3 separate regions of the Homo sapiens genome follow, and regions 2 and 3 are each reported to be linked to region 1. Evidence: microRNA targets listed by miRTarBase, many of them from high-throughput screens and not tested one by one. Region 1 holds a microRNA gene; each other region holds the end of a gene's coding sequence.

Region 1 (4,770 bases):
GTTTGTGAGGAAAATTAAAAGCTGATTGGATAAAGTGTTACTCTGGGGAAAAGAGAGCAAACTTTTGGTGGTTGGTTGATCAGAGATGGCCTCACTGAGAAGGTATTAGAAAGGACAAGAACAGTGTGAGACCAAAGGGAATAGCTGGGCAAAGGCCCTAAGGTGAAAAATTTGTTGTGTTTAGGGAATAGCAAGGTCAGTGTATCCGAAATCTAGTGACCAAAAGAAGGAATGATAGGAGGTGAAGTCTTCAGCCTCAATAAGAAGGTGAAGTGCACTGGAAGCCATTGAAGGATTTAAGAAATGGAGTATCTGGCCGGGCGCGGTGGCTCACGCCTGTAATCCCAGCACTTTGGGAGGCCGAGGTGGGAGGATCAAGAGGTCAGGAGATGGAGACCATCCTGGCTAACATGGTGAAACCCCGTCTCTATTCAAAATAAAAAATTTTTTTAAAAATTAGCCAGGCGTGGTGGCGGGCGCCTGTAGTCCCAGCTACTCGGGAGGCTGAGGCAGGATAATGGCGTGAACCCAGGAGGCAGGGCTTGCAGTGAGCCGAGATCGTGCCACTGCACTCCAGCCTGGGCGACAGAGCGAGACTCCGTCTCAAAAAAAAAAAAAAAAAAAAAAGAAATGGAGTATCATGGACTAGGATAGTAGCAGTAGAGATGAGGGAAGTGGATGGATCCAAAAAGCTGACCTATCTTGCTTACCAATTAAATGAGGAAAGGGAGGAATCAATAGTGATGCCTAGGTTTGGGGCATGTTGTCTAGGTGGAATTAATTTTAATTACACTTTTAACCCCTAGCATATCCAAATATTATTTCACATGTGATCAACATAAAAAATTACTAAATATTAAAAATATTTTACATTATCTTTCTCATAACTAAGCATTTGAAATCTGGTGTGTATTTTATACTTATAGCATATCTCAGTACTTGATTTCATAAAATTTCCAGCTGAAAAAATAGATTCACGTACCCAAGTCGTTCCAAGCATACTTAAAAGTTTTACGGTAATCGAATCGTGTATATTTTTAAATTTTATTTTAAATTAAAGTTAGGATTATGAATTCAGTTCCTAAATTAGCCTCATTTCACTTCTGCATTTCAAGTGGGACAAGTTATTACCATATTGGACAATGCAGTCTAGTGAAGTAGAGGATAGTGGAAAGTCAGACTTAAAAAGTTGTTTAGAACCAGCTCTGGAAGGCCTTGGATGTCAGATTAAAGGACTGAGATTTTACCCTTGAGTCAGGCAGAATAATGGATGGTTTTTGAACTAAGGAGTGACACAAGGTTGTGCTTATGACTAGAAGGAGGCCACTAGGTGGCCAGCTGGTGAGTCAGGACACCCTTCAGTTGCTTTGACTTCAGCCCTGTGGATTCAAAGTCTGATTTTTGTCAGCGCTCTAGAGCAGTCTCACCAAAAGTGTGGTCCACAAGGCAGTGCCAGTCTGTAAGCCCTTTGTTACACATCCATGTCAAGGCATTTACAGAAAGTAAGAATTTAGAAACTTATAGCAGTTTAACAGACTAATTTTATTTCTGTGGGTCTAATAAAAATTTGAGGGATTGTACTTTGCATATTCTTTATTTCCCTTTTTTTGTTTGTTTTTTGTGTTCGAGATGGGAGTCTTTTTCTGTCGCCAGGCTGGAGTGCAGTGGTGCAGTCTCGGCTCACTGCAACCTCTGCCTCCTGGGTTCAAGCGATTCTCCTGCCTCAGCCTCCCAAATAGCTGGGATTACAGGTGTGCACCACCACATCCAGCTAATTTTTGTATTTTCAGTAGAGACGGGGTTTCACCATGTTGGCCAGGATGGTCTTCATTGCCTGACCTTGTGATCCGCCTGCCTCAGCCTCCCAAAGTGCTGGGATTACAGGCGTAAGCCACCGTGCCCGGCCCTTTTTTCCTTTTTAGTTTATTTTTTTCTTTTTTGAGACAGAGTTTCGCTCTTATTGCCCAGGCTGGAGTGCAATGGTGCGATCTTGGCTCACCGCAACCTCTGCCTCCTGAGTTGAAGCGATACTCCTACCTCAGCCTCCCAAGTAGCTGGGATTACAAGCATGCACCACCATACCCTGCTAATTTTGTATTTTTAGTAGAGACGGGTTTCTCCATGTTGGTCAGGCTGGTCTCGAACTCCCAACCTCAGGTGATCTACCTGCCTTGGCCTCCCAAAGCGCTGGGATTACAGGTGTGAGCCACTGCACCCGGCCGTTTTTTTCTTTTTCTAATAATTTTTATCATATTACATAAAAGTACCTATGGTCTCACAGATGAAGGGAGTCAGAAGAACCAAACTCCCAGAAGACATATAAATCTAAATGCCTTTTTTACTTTAGAGTGAAAACTGTAATAGCTAAATTATAATGGACATCTGCTCATTTTCTCCCTCCATGTAGACATGGAAAGCTACACGGAAATAACCGAGTTTATAGTAGCTACCATATATTAAACGTTTCCTGTATGCCAGCCACTGTGCAAAGCATATTATATATATTGTCTCATTTAATCCTCACAACTCTGTAAAATAAGTATTGTTTGCCCCATTTTTCCAATGAAGAAACCGAGGCTAAAATAGGTTGAATAACTTACCTAAATTCACCATCCTCAAAGGTGTTAAAGACAGGATTCCAGTACAGGTCTCTCATTTCCTTCATGATTAGGAATACTACTTTGAAATGAGAGACCTGTACTGTATCTGTTAATTCCAAATTCCCTGGCATAAAGACTCAGTACATTGTTTAAAGAGAATGCATGAAGTTAACTGCATTACCTTTTGGAGGGTTCATTTGTGAATTTGGGGCCAAAGTAAGGGGAGTTACTGGTATTCTAATAGCATCAAACAAATGAATTCATTTCATCTTTTGGGGAGGTGGAGGGAATAAGGTCTCACCTTGTCGCCCATGCAGGCTGGAAGGCCGTGATGTGATCTCAGCTCACTGCAGCCTCAACCTGGGCTCAAGCGATCCTCCCACCTCAGCCTCCTGAGTAGCTGGGACTACAGGTGCACACCACCACGCCCAGCTCATTTTTGTATGTTTTGTAGAGACTGTGTTTTGCCACGTTGCCCAGGCTATTCTCAAACTCCTGAGCTCAAGTGATCCTCCCACCTCAGCCTCCCAAAGTGCTGGGATTACAGATGTAATCCACCACACCCAGCCAAATGCATTCATGTCTACAATAGAAATACATCTCTTTGCTGCTATCTTGAATTTGTAGACTCCCACAAATCAATAAAAAAGAAGACATCCAATAAAAAAATGGGTAGAGGCCAGGCAGTGGCTAACACCTGTAATCCAAGCACTTTAGGAGGCCCAGGCAGGCAGATCACTTGAGGTCAGAAGTTCAAGACCAGCCTGGCCAACATGACAAAACCCTGTCTCTACTAAAAATATAAAAATTAGCCAGACGTAGTGGCACGTACCTGTAATCACAACTACTCGGGAGGCTGAGACAGGAGAATTGCTTGAACCCAGGAGGCAGAAGTTGCAGTGAGCCAAGATCGTGCCACTGCACTCCAGCCTGGGCGACAAAGCAAGACTCCATCTCAAAAAAAAAAAAAAAAAAAAAGGTAGAAACTTAAACAGTCACCTCACAAAAAAGGGTATCTAAATATTAGTTTCTTAAAAAATATAAAAGGGGCGTGTAGATGGCCGATAAACATGTAAAAGATACTCAACTAATTTAATCATTAGAGAAATGCAAATTAAAACCTAAATGATATTTTAATCTCACATCCAACAGAATGGCTAAAATGGAAAACCCAGAAAATGCCAGATGTTGGTCAAGAGTTGGAGTAACTGAAACTACACAGCTGCTGGAAATGTATATTGGTATAACCACTTTGGAAAATGGGAAGTTCAACAAACAGGCAAACCAATCTAGATTTAGGGATATATGTTTAGGTAGTAAAAGTATAAAGAAAAGAAATAGTTAGCTTTGCAGGGAGTAGTGCTTGGGAGGTAATAGGTGCTTCTGGAGTGCTGTTGATGTTCTGTTCCTAAGTAGGGTGCTATGGCTTGAGTTTGGTTTGTCTGACCCTACCAAGTCTCATGTTAAAATTTCATCCCCAGTGTTGGAGGTGAGGCCTGGTGGGAAGGGTTGTGGGAGTGGATTTCTCATGAGTGGCTTCGTATTCTGTAAGGAGTGAGTTCATTAAGAGACTGGCACCTCCTCTCTCCTTTCTCTCGCCATGTGATCTCTGCATATGTCATCTCCTGTCTGCCTTCCACCGTGAGCAGCCTGAAGCCCTCACTGGAAGCAGATACTGCTACCATGCTTCTTGTACAGCCTGCAAAACCGTGAGCCAAATAAGCCGAACATTCTAAGACACTGGGATTACATGAGTGTTAGCACTCTATGACTTAATGAGAAGTAGGTTTTTTGGAGAAAAATGTACTTTCAGTATGTATATTATATATTTCATGGTTATTTTTAAAACTCGTGAGCAATGCTGGATACACACTACCAACTATTACTTCCCTGACTGAGCCAATTTTTCTGTAAATGCATCACAAATGTGAAAGATAAGGTAGGCCTGAATTCTGGGGAATGACAATGGTGAAGGAAAGGCGAGACAGGTGCAAAAGACACTGCAGAACTCAGGCTCAAAATCTCATCCTTAACTCCTTCCCTCATCCCACCATGTTGAATCAGATGTCAATAGCAATTTTATATGGCATTTTTTAAGCTTGCAAAAAGTTATAAACAGAAAATGTTCATTTTATCACTCCATCACAGACGAAAAACATGAAATTAAGCT
Region 2 (3,884 bases), not on the chromosome of region 1:
GACATCTCAGAGGTGCTCTCTGAGTTCATATATTTCTTCTCCAAGTTGTCATGGGATTCCTACATATATTTTTCTCACATAAATTAATTGTATCTCCTCCCTTTTGATGACTGGGCATTTTCCCATTTCTGTCCTGCTCATTAGTTCTTTTAGTAGTTCCATATTCCTCTCCCCAACTTTCACCTCACTTCAGTTCATCCTTTCCTGACTTTAGTTCCCCTTCCAATTAACTCTCTTTTTTTAATGGTACCTCTTTCCCAGTTGACTAGCTCATATTAAGCAAGGTCACTATTAAGAAGCTATTTTGGAGACAGAAGTTTTGTGTTTACTTATAGCTGTTCATGTGTACTTTCCTTTTCCCCTATCTTCAGTTCCTTTCTCCTAGCATAAAGAATAGGTTGTGACATTGGCTTGATGTTTGTTTATTACATTTTTATTTCAGGTGGTGAGACCAGGAGTGAGAACAGGGAATTAGCTTCAAAACAGGTAATATCTACTGGAATCCAGCCACATGGAGAGACAGCTGCCAAATGCAACGGGGATGTTATCAGGGGTCTTGAGCATGAAGAAGCCCGAGACCTTCTGGGCAGATTAGAGAGGCAGCGGGGAAATCCCACACAAGAGAGACGACATAAATGTGATGAATGTGGGAAAAGCTTTGCTCAGAGCTCAGGCCTTGTTCGCCACTGGAGAATCCACACTGGGGAGAAACCCTATCAGTGTAATGTGTGTGGTAAAGCCTTCAGTTACAGGTCAGCCCTTCTTTCACATCAGGATATCCACAACAAAGTAAAACGCTATCACTGTAAGGAGTGTGGCAAAGCCTTCAGTCAGAACACAGGCCTGATTCTGCACCAGAGAATCCACACTGGGGAGAAGCCATATCAGTGCAATCAGTGTGGGAAGGCTTTCAGTCAGAGTGCGGGCCTTATTCTGCACCAGAGAATCCACAGTGGAGAGAGACCCTATGAATGTAATGAGTGTGGGAAAGCTTTCAGTCATAGCTCACACCTCATTGGACATCAGAGAATCCACACTGGGGAGAAGCCCTATGAGTGTGATGAGTGTGGGAAAACCTTCAGGCGGAGCTCACATCTTATTGGTCATCAGAGGAGCCACACTGGGGAGAAACCCTACAAATGCAATGAGTGTGGGAGGGCCTTCAGTCAGAAGTCAGGCCTTATTGAACATCAGAGAATCCACACTGGAGAAAGACCCTATAAATGTAAAGAATGTGGGAAAGCTTTCAATGGGAACACTGGTCTCATTCAACACCTGAGAATTCACACAGGGGAGAAGCCCTACCAATGTAATGAGTGTGGGAAAGCCTTTATTCAGAGGTCAAGTCTCATTCGACATCAGAGAATCCACAGTGGTGAAAAATCTGAATCCATAAGCGTTTAGGAACAACATCAGTTAGAGTTTGAGCATTATTCAGCATTAGGGAAACCACACACTGGTGAGAGGTCTTTCAGTGTACTAAAAGGCAGAAAGGTCATCACAACTTTAGTGTCAGAATCTATAGTGGTGGCAAAGTTAGGATAGCTCTTTAGTAATTTGGGCCCAGTGCCTTGGTGAAGGTTGATTAGCTTGACTGTCTTTGAAAGTATCTGATGGAGCTCCTGATGACCTAATGTATCCTTTAGAAATTTAAAATAGCATTAGAGCAAGTTGCTTGTCATGGCTTGAAGAGCTTAACTTTGTCTTTTGGGTGAGTAGCTATAGGTTTGAGAGAGGCTGGCTACTCCTAGTTCCTGTGCTTCTTCCCATCTCCTGTGATCCCCCTCTCCCATTTATTCCCTTGAAGGTGCCCTTGTATTCCTAATCTGATCTAAGAAGCTGCTGTAGAGTCAGAAGTAGCTTCTGTGTGAAACTTATATTTGTATGTAGCTTTCTAGGAAAATTTTACAGACACTTAAAGTATTTATGCTTAAGTGTGCATTTTTTTATTCTAATATTCCTTCTAGTCAGTGGAAATTTGTATTCCCATACAAACTCAGAATGCTATATTTTTAACAGCACTCCAGCATTTTTCTTCATGTATCACCTTCACTGACTCCATTGAGTCATTGAGCATCTGTACATATCCTTCACCACCCCCAGTCCCAGCACCTGTGTCAGTAAAGAAAGTGGACACATTAGTAATGGTTATGGGAGTAATACAGAGAAAGAGGTGAGTGGAGACTCAGCCCAGCTGCTCTTGAGCTTGGATAGTTATACATTTTGGTGACTTCTGACTCTCCTTCCACCTCCCCACTGTACACTGTGGTACAGATAGTTGGCACTATCCTAGTTATGGCATCAGGTAGGAGAAGGAGACGAAGATGCTTTAGGAAGATAAAAACCTTACAAAGAATGTATACTCATCTTTTTTGGCCCATTACAATACTGCTTTCTCAGGTTCTTAACAGCCTGTGCAAACTCCCTGACTAGATGGTCTGTCACTCCTATCATTACCTTGCACCCATCTCTTTAGATGGCCTCAGCACCTCACTCGTTATTCTCCATCTGTTTCTTGCCATTAGTTTATATGACTTTAATATCCACAGTGGTAATCTAATACCTTACCTCACAGGTTTTCATTCTTTTGAACTCTGGTGCACTCCATCTGTAATCCATGTCTATAATCTACCAACAAAGATGTACTCTTAAACTCAGTATCACCAGGCACTATATTTCATCTTTGAGGCTTTTGTTATACCAAGGAATACTATATAAAGTAATGAGACTGGTTTAAAGTAACATGCCAGAACTTACGCATCCAATGTGGGTTGTCACTTGTTATTCCCAAGTACTATTATTCCATACTACTATATTCTTCCAAATATTTGGAACACTCTTAGAATTCCCATTTAATAAACCATATGAGAAAACCCTCTATTACTCTTACACTTTAGTTTTACCATTTGAGTAGCCACTTATTCACCAGAGTTGGAATTGAGAAATTTTGGGCTTTCCAAAATTAACCTTTAAACTTAAAATTGATTACATTGAGCCTATTCAGAAAAAAAATTATATAGGTTCTGATGAAAGCTTCATAATTTCACCCTGTGACTATCCTGAAAAGAAATAATAATCATTTTATGATTGATGGGCCAAAAAAAGCAATCAAAGTCTTACGTCATAGAGGACCACCTTTTGGATCATAAATTCTTTCCCTATAACATTCCTTCTCTGCCTCTCTATGGCCCACTTTGACCACTAACAACATCAGAATTATCTACATCAATTTCATTGAGCCATTGGTGAATGAAGACACCCATCACTTGTCATGTTGGTTTCCAACAGTCCTTTCGATTATCCTTTATTTTCTTATCCTCCCTTCTCTTGTTTCTTTTATTTATAAGTTACCATTCCTAGTTTCTTTGTACTTGAAATTTTAAGAAACCAGAAACAAGTAAATCTGGTTGTATCTAGATCTTTGCTCTGTGTTTCAGTTGTGCCTTACCCTCTGTAAGATACTGATTCTTCCTGGGGCCAGTATTACCTTGTATGCAAATATTACATATGATGGGTGCATTGTCAGAGGGAAAATATATGTGTATGTACACATGTGTATGTACACACACACACACACCTGCCATACACTTTAGAAGAACGCTTCTCTTCTATTCCAATAAAAAGTCCTTTTAGCAATGCAACATATTAACAAAATTGGGTGCATTCAGGGTGGTATGGCCATAGACCAGAGCAACACATTGAAATGTATACAGATGTACTAGCTAAAGTCTCTTTATGTGTCAGTATTAAGAGTAATATGTAGCCAGATTACTTAAATCTCAGAATTACTAAGCATGTGGCATAAATTTGGAGAAAATAATATGACTAGAAAAATTAGTGTTATATTGGGTGTGAGAAAAGACTGTGTCTTGAAAGAATTATCA
Region 3 (3,884 bases), not on the chromosome of region 1:
AACCTGCACGTTGTGCACATGTACCCTAAAACTTAAAGTATAATAATAAAAAAGAAAAAAAAAAAAAGAATGTGGTACATACACACCAATGGAATACAACACAGCCATAAAAAAGAAAAACAAATGTCCTTTGCAGCAACACGGATGGAGCTAGAGGCCATTATCCTAAATGAACACAGAAGCAGAAAATCAAATATCACGTTCTCATTTTTAAGTGGGAACTAAACAAAAGTGACATGCGGACACAAATATGGACGAAATGGACTCTGGGGACTCCAAAGTGTGGAGGGTAAGATAGGCATGAGGGTTGAAGTTACCTACTGGGTCCGGTGTCCAATATTTGGGTGATGGATATGCTAGAAGCTCAACCCTCACCATCACACATAATACCCTTGTAACAAAGCAGCACATGTACCCCAAATCTAAAATTGTAAAAACTCCATCCTAAAACCGTTAACAGGAGTTAGGTCTAGGTCATACTTACCTCTGAAACTGGAAAGATATTTGTGAACTTGAGATTTTTCTAAAGACAACAATCAGTAAGGGCTTTGAAATATATGAAGGCAAGGTATGGCTATTTTCTTCAATATAGTAGTTTGCATATTTTTACCTTTTTAATATTTTTTATTGGCCAATCTGTTTTAAGGTCTTTGGAGAAAATATGCCTAACTCCATGCCATCTGGCCCCTCAGGATAAACTCACCTGTCCCACCACATCCTTTGTGGGTTGTCATATGCTCTCCTGCTCCACCTACCTCAGTTGTGAGGATTACAATTAATGTGTGATAAAGCACTTAAAAAAAATCACACAGCAGATGGTATTGCTATTCAATCAGTGTAATTCTAATACCACATTCTTCCAGTTTTAATCACATCTACAAATATTAAAATATTGAGACAAATTCTTACATGTCTCAACTTCCCCCCCCCCTTCCCACAAAATTGTTTGGTCTATCAGTGTTTCTTTAAAAATCCTTTGCTCCTTTATGGGAATGTCCCTCCATGTTAGCACAGATGTCCAATAAAAACTCAACCTGTTGGTCTCTTACTTCTTGTGTATTCTGCTACATACGGATGCAGTATTAACAGCCTCCAAATCTAGAGTTGCCTTTAAACCAGCGAACTCAGTCCATACTTACACCCATTCTCATTCTCTTATCCACTTACCCAAAACAAAAAACCCTTAAAAAAAAAAAAAACCCAATCAATAACAATACTTAAGTCTAACCATACTCTTCTTCAGAGAAATTACCTTACAAAGCATTGGAAAGAGGTGCTGAGAACCAGCCAGGGCAGCACAGCAAAACCTGTCTCTACAATTAAAAAAAAAAAAAAAATCAACCAGGCATGATGCCATGCACCTATAGTCCCAGCTACTTGGGAGGGTGAAAGAATCGCTTGAGCCCAGGAGGCAGAGGCTGTAGTGAGCCGTGATCACACAACTGTACTCTAGCCTGAAGGACAGAGTGAGATCCTGTCTTGAAAAAAAAAGATACTTAGAGCACATCATCTTGCAACTTTAAAATATGACTTTTTCAAGCTTAAAAACATCATACAACATAGAGACCAGCCTGGCCAACATGGCAAAATCCCATTCTCTACTAAAAATACAAAAATTAGCCGGGCATGGTGGTGGACTACCATGTAATCCCACCTACTCGAAAAGCTGAGGCAGAAGAATCATTAGAAACTGCAAGGTGGAGGTTGCAGTGAGCCAAGATCGCACCACACTGCACTCCAGCCTGGTGGACAGAGTGAGGCTCCATCTCAAAAAAAAAAAAAACACATCACAGAAAGCATCGTAATTTTTTTCAATGCAAGAGACAGCACTTAGACTACACCAAATTAAATGAGTACTAGTTTATGGCATTTTCACTAAACAAAATTAAATGGGTAAATTAAATCCCAAGCAACTGGGATTATAGGCGCCCACCACTATGCCCAGCTAATTTTTGTATTTTTAGTAGAGATGGGGTTTCACCATGTTGCCCAGGCTGGTCTTGAACTCCTGACCTCAAGTGATCCACCTGCCTTGGCCTCCCAATATTAGGATTACAGGCATGAGCCACCGCACCCAGCCATGATTGAGTGTTCTTATGGCCCAGCAACAAAACCAAAAGATTAATATATGGCGTGTTTATCACATTTGACTTGGACTTATATTAATCAAGATAATTATTTCAAAAATGTAGATGGCCAATCATTAAGCTGGAAAATGCCATATTGAAAATAATCATTAATTTCCATTAAGTAGAGTTCAAACAGAATACACACATATAAGACATAAGAACCAAGTAATTGTTCAAATTTTTATTTTAATGCACAGTATGAGAAATGAACTTTTTTAAATCAACTGATTTGTATGGAAAATGACACGGCAAATAAATTAGACCTATGTTAAAGCGAAGGTCAGCTAAATATCCAAACTTAAGGATATAATGGGCACCGATAAACAGATTCCACAGTCTTCTTTAATAGAGTATCTTTCAAACACAACTTTGCTAGAAACTGGTCCAAAGATCGACAGCACGTGGGAATGCTTAACAGGGGTGGTGATCAGGGACACGTTTCCTATGAGAGTAAGAAAAAAGTCAATAGTGAAAAATGAAGAGCATGATTTTATCCAAAGTATTATACTAAATACAAACACAACTAGAATCCTGTATTAAAACTGTTATAACTCTGCAATGGTTTGCATGTGTGTCCCCTATAACACTCACATTGAAACTGAATCCCCAATGTGGCAGTATTGGAAGTTGGGCTTTTAAGAGGTGACCAAGTTATGTCATGGACTAATGGGTTATATAGGATGGGACTGCTGGCTTTAGGTGAGGAGGAAGACAGACCTGAGCTAGCCACTCAGCCCCCTCCTCTGTGTGATGCCCTGCACCACATCAGGACTGTTCTGCCTTGGGACTCTGCAGACACCCCCACCAACAAGAAGCACCTTCTATTCTCATCTTTTATTCTTTGATGACCATACAATAAGGGGGCATAGAACAATCTTTTGGAAAGATGGGATAAGGGTACTAGTAAATTTGTACTTAATGCTTGTTCAAGGATCTAAAGCTTGAGAAACACTGCTTTTAGAGGCAAACACAACAGTTACGAGAAGCTGAAGAAGCTTAAGAACAGATCAAAGAGTACAGCATTATACAGGGATCATATAGAGAGATAAACTTTTCACCCTTGGTAGCTTATGGGGGGACTAGGATGCTAACCATTGTCAAGAGTTATGAAGCAGCTGTCACAGGGCACTGATCTGAAAAAAAAAGTCTTCTGGAGATTAATAAGGAATATGAAAAAGAAGCCCATGGTCTGGTAGGTCTGGAAGGCTGAGTTAAAATTCAGTTTCTTTATTGCAAATTACTCAGAATTTGCTAATAAAAGATACCTGATCTCTAAAACAGTATCAGACCAAACAAGGTATTATACATTTTTTAAGCGTTATTTCAACTGTGGGTGAGGGCACTGACTTCTTGTGAAGATTTCTGGGAGTAGGTGTGGCTATATGACCTTGCCCTAGAACACTTTAGTTACAGAACTCAGTTTCCTTTTGCTATCATTCTGTTTAAAGACAATAGAAAGCATCACAGCATCTACTGTCCTCAGTACTTGACCTTTCCAAGCATGGCTCTTTCTGTGCCTTTTCAATCCTAAGAGCTACCTCAGCTGCCCATCCCTCTTTCCCCTTAAGTTTTTCTGGCTTAAGTGTTAAGAGTTGTGATATTTTAAATAACTTACATACTTTTATCCAGGCAAAACTGTCTCTGCTTTTCATTAACTCTAATTATAAAATAAATACAGCTCCCTATTTTGTTTTGCTGTTAGTAATTTTTTCTGAGAAAAGTGTTAGGGTACCTGGGTGCCGCTTTGATGATGTT

Evidence for each region. The annotated mature microRNA hsa-miR-4712-3p reads AAUGAGAGACCUGUACUGUAU and lies in region 1 at 2,686-2,706, shown strand. An mRNA with a match to its seed (bases 2 to 7 or 8) in the 3' UTR can be bound and repressed. Matches are read on the target gene's strand: a 7mer-m8 pairs with bases 2 to 8, a 7mer-A1 pairs with bases 2 to 7 and ends in A, and an 8mer does both.
Region 2: the mRNA of ZKSCAN8 is a reported target of hsa-miR-4712-3p. The part of its 3' UTR that is shown has no 7-base or 8-base seed match.
Region 3: miRTarBase lists CCT2 as a target of hsa-miR-4712-3p. Seed matches in the 3' UTR shown: 7mer-A1 at 2,327-2,333.

The regions. Positions count from the first base shown.
Region 1 is chr15:50,357,700-50,362,469 of GRCh38, forward strand. It overlaps MIR4712 (microRNA 4712), which reads left to right and starts at 2,630; the gene lies at 2,630-2,711. It overlaps GABPB1-AS1 (GABPB1 antisense RNA 1), which reads left to right. Exons shown (of 1, transcript NR_024490.1): 1 at 1-613.
Region 2 is chr6:28,152,614-28,156,497 of GRCh38, forward strand. ZKSCAN8 (zinc finger with KRAB and SCAN domains 8) reads left to right here. Exons shown (of 6, transcript NM_006298.4): 6 at 443-3,884. The coding sequence ends at 1,404. Among named protein-coding and RNA genes, the nearest start is that of ZKSCAN8, 13 kb to the left of the region's middle.
Region 3 is chr12:69,599,982-69,603,865 of GRCh38, reverse strand. It overlaps CCT2 (chaperonin containing TCP1 subunit 2), which reads right to left. Exons shown (of 16, transcript NM_006431.3): 15 at 3,862-3,884; 16 at 2,296-2,571. The coding sequence ends at 2,541. Among named protein-coding and RNA genes, the nearest start is that of LRRC10, 9.0 kb to the left of the region's middle.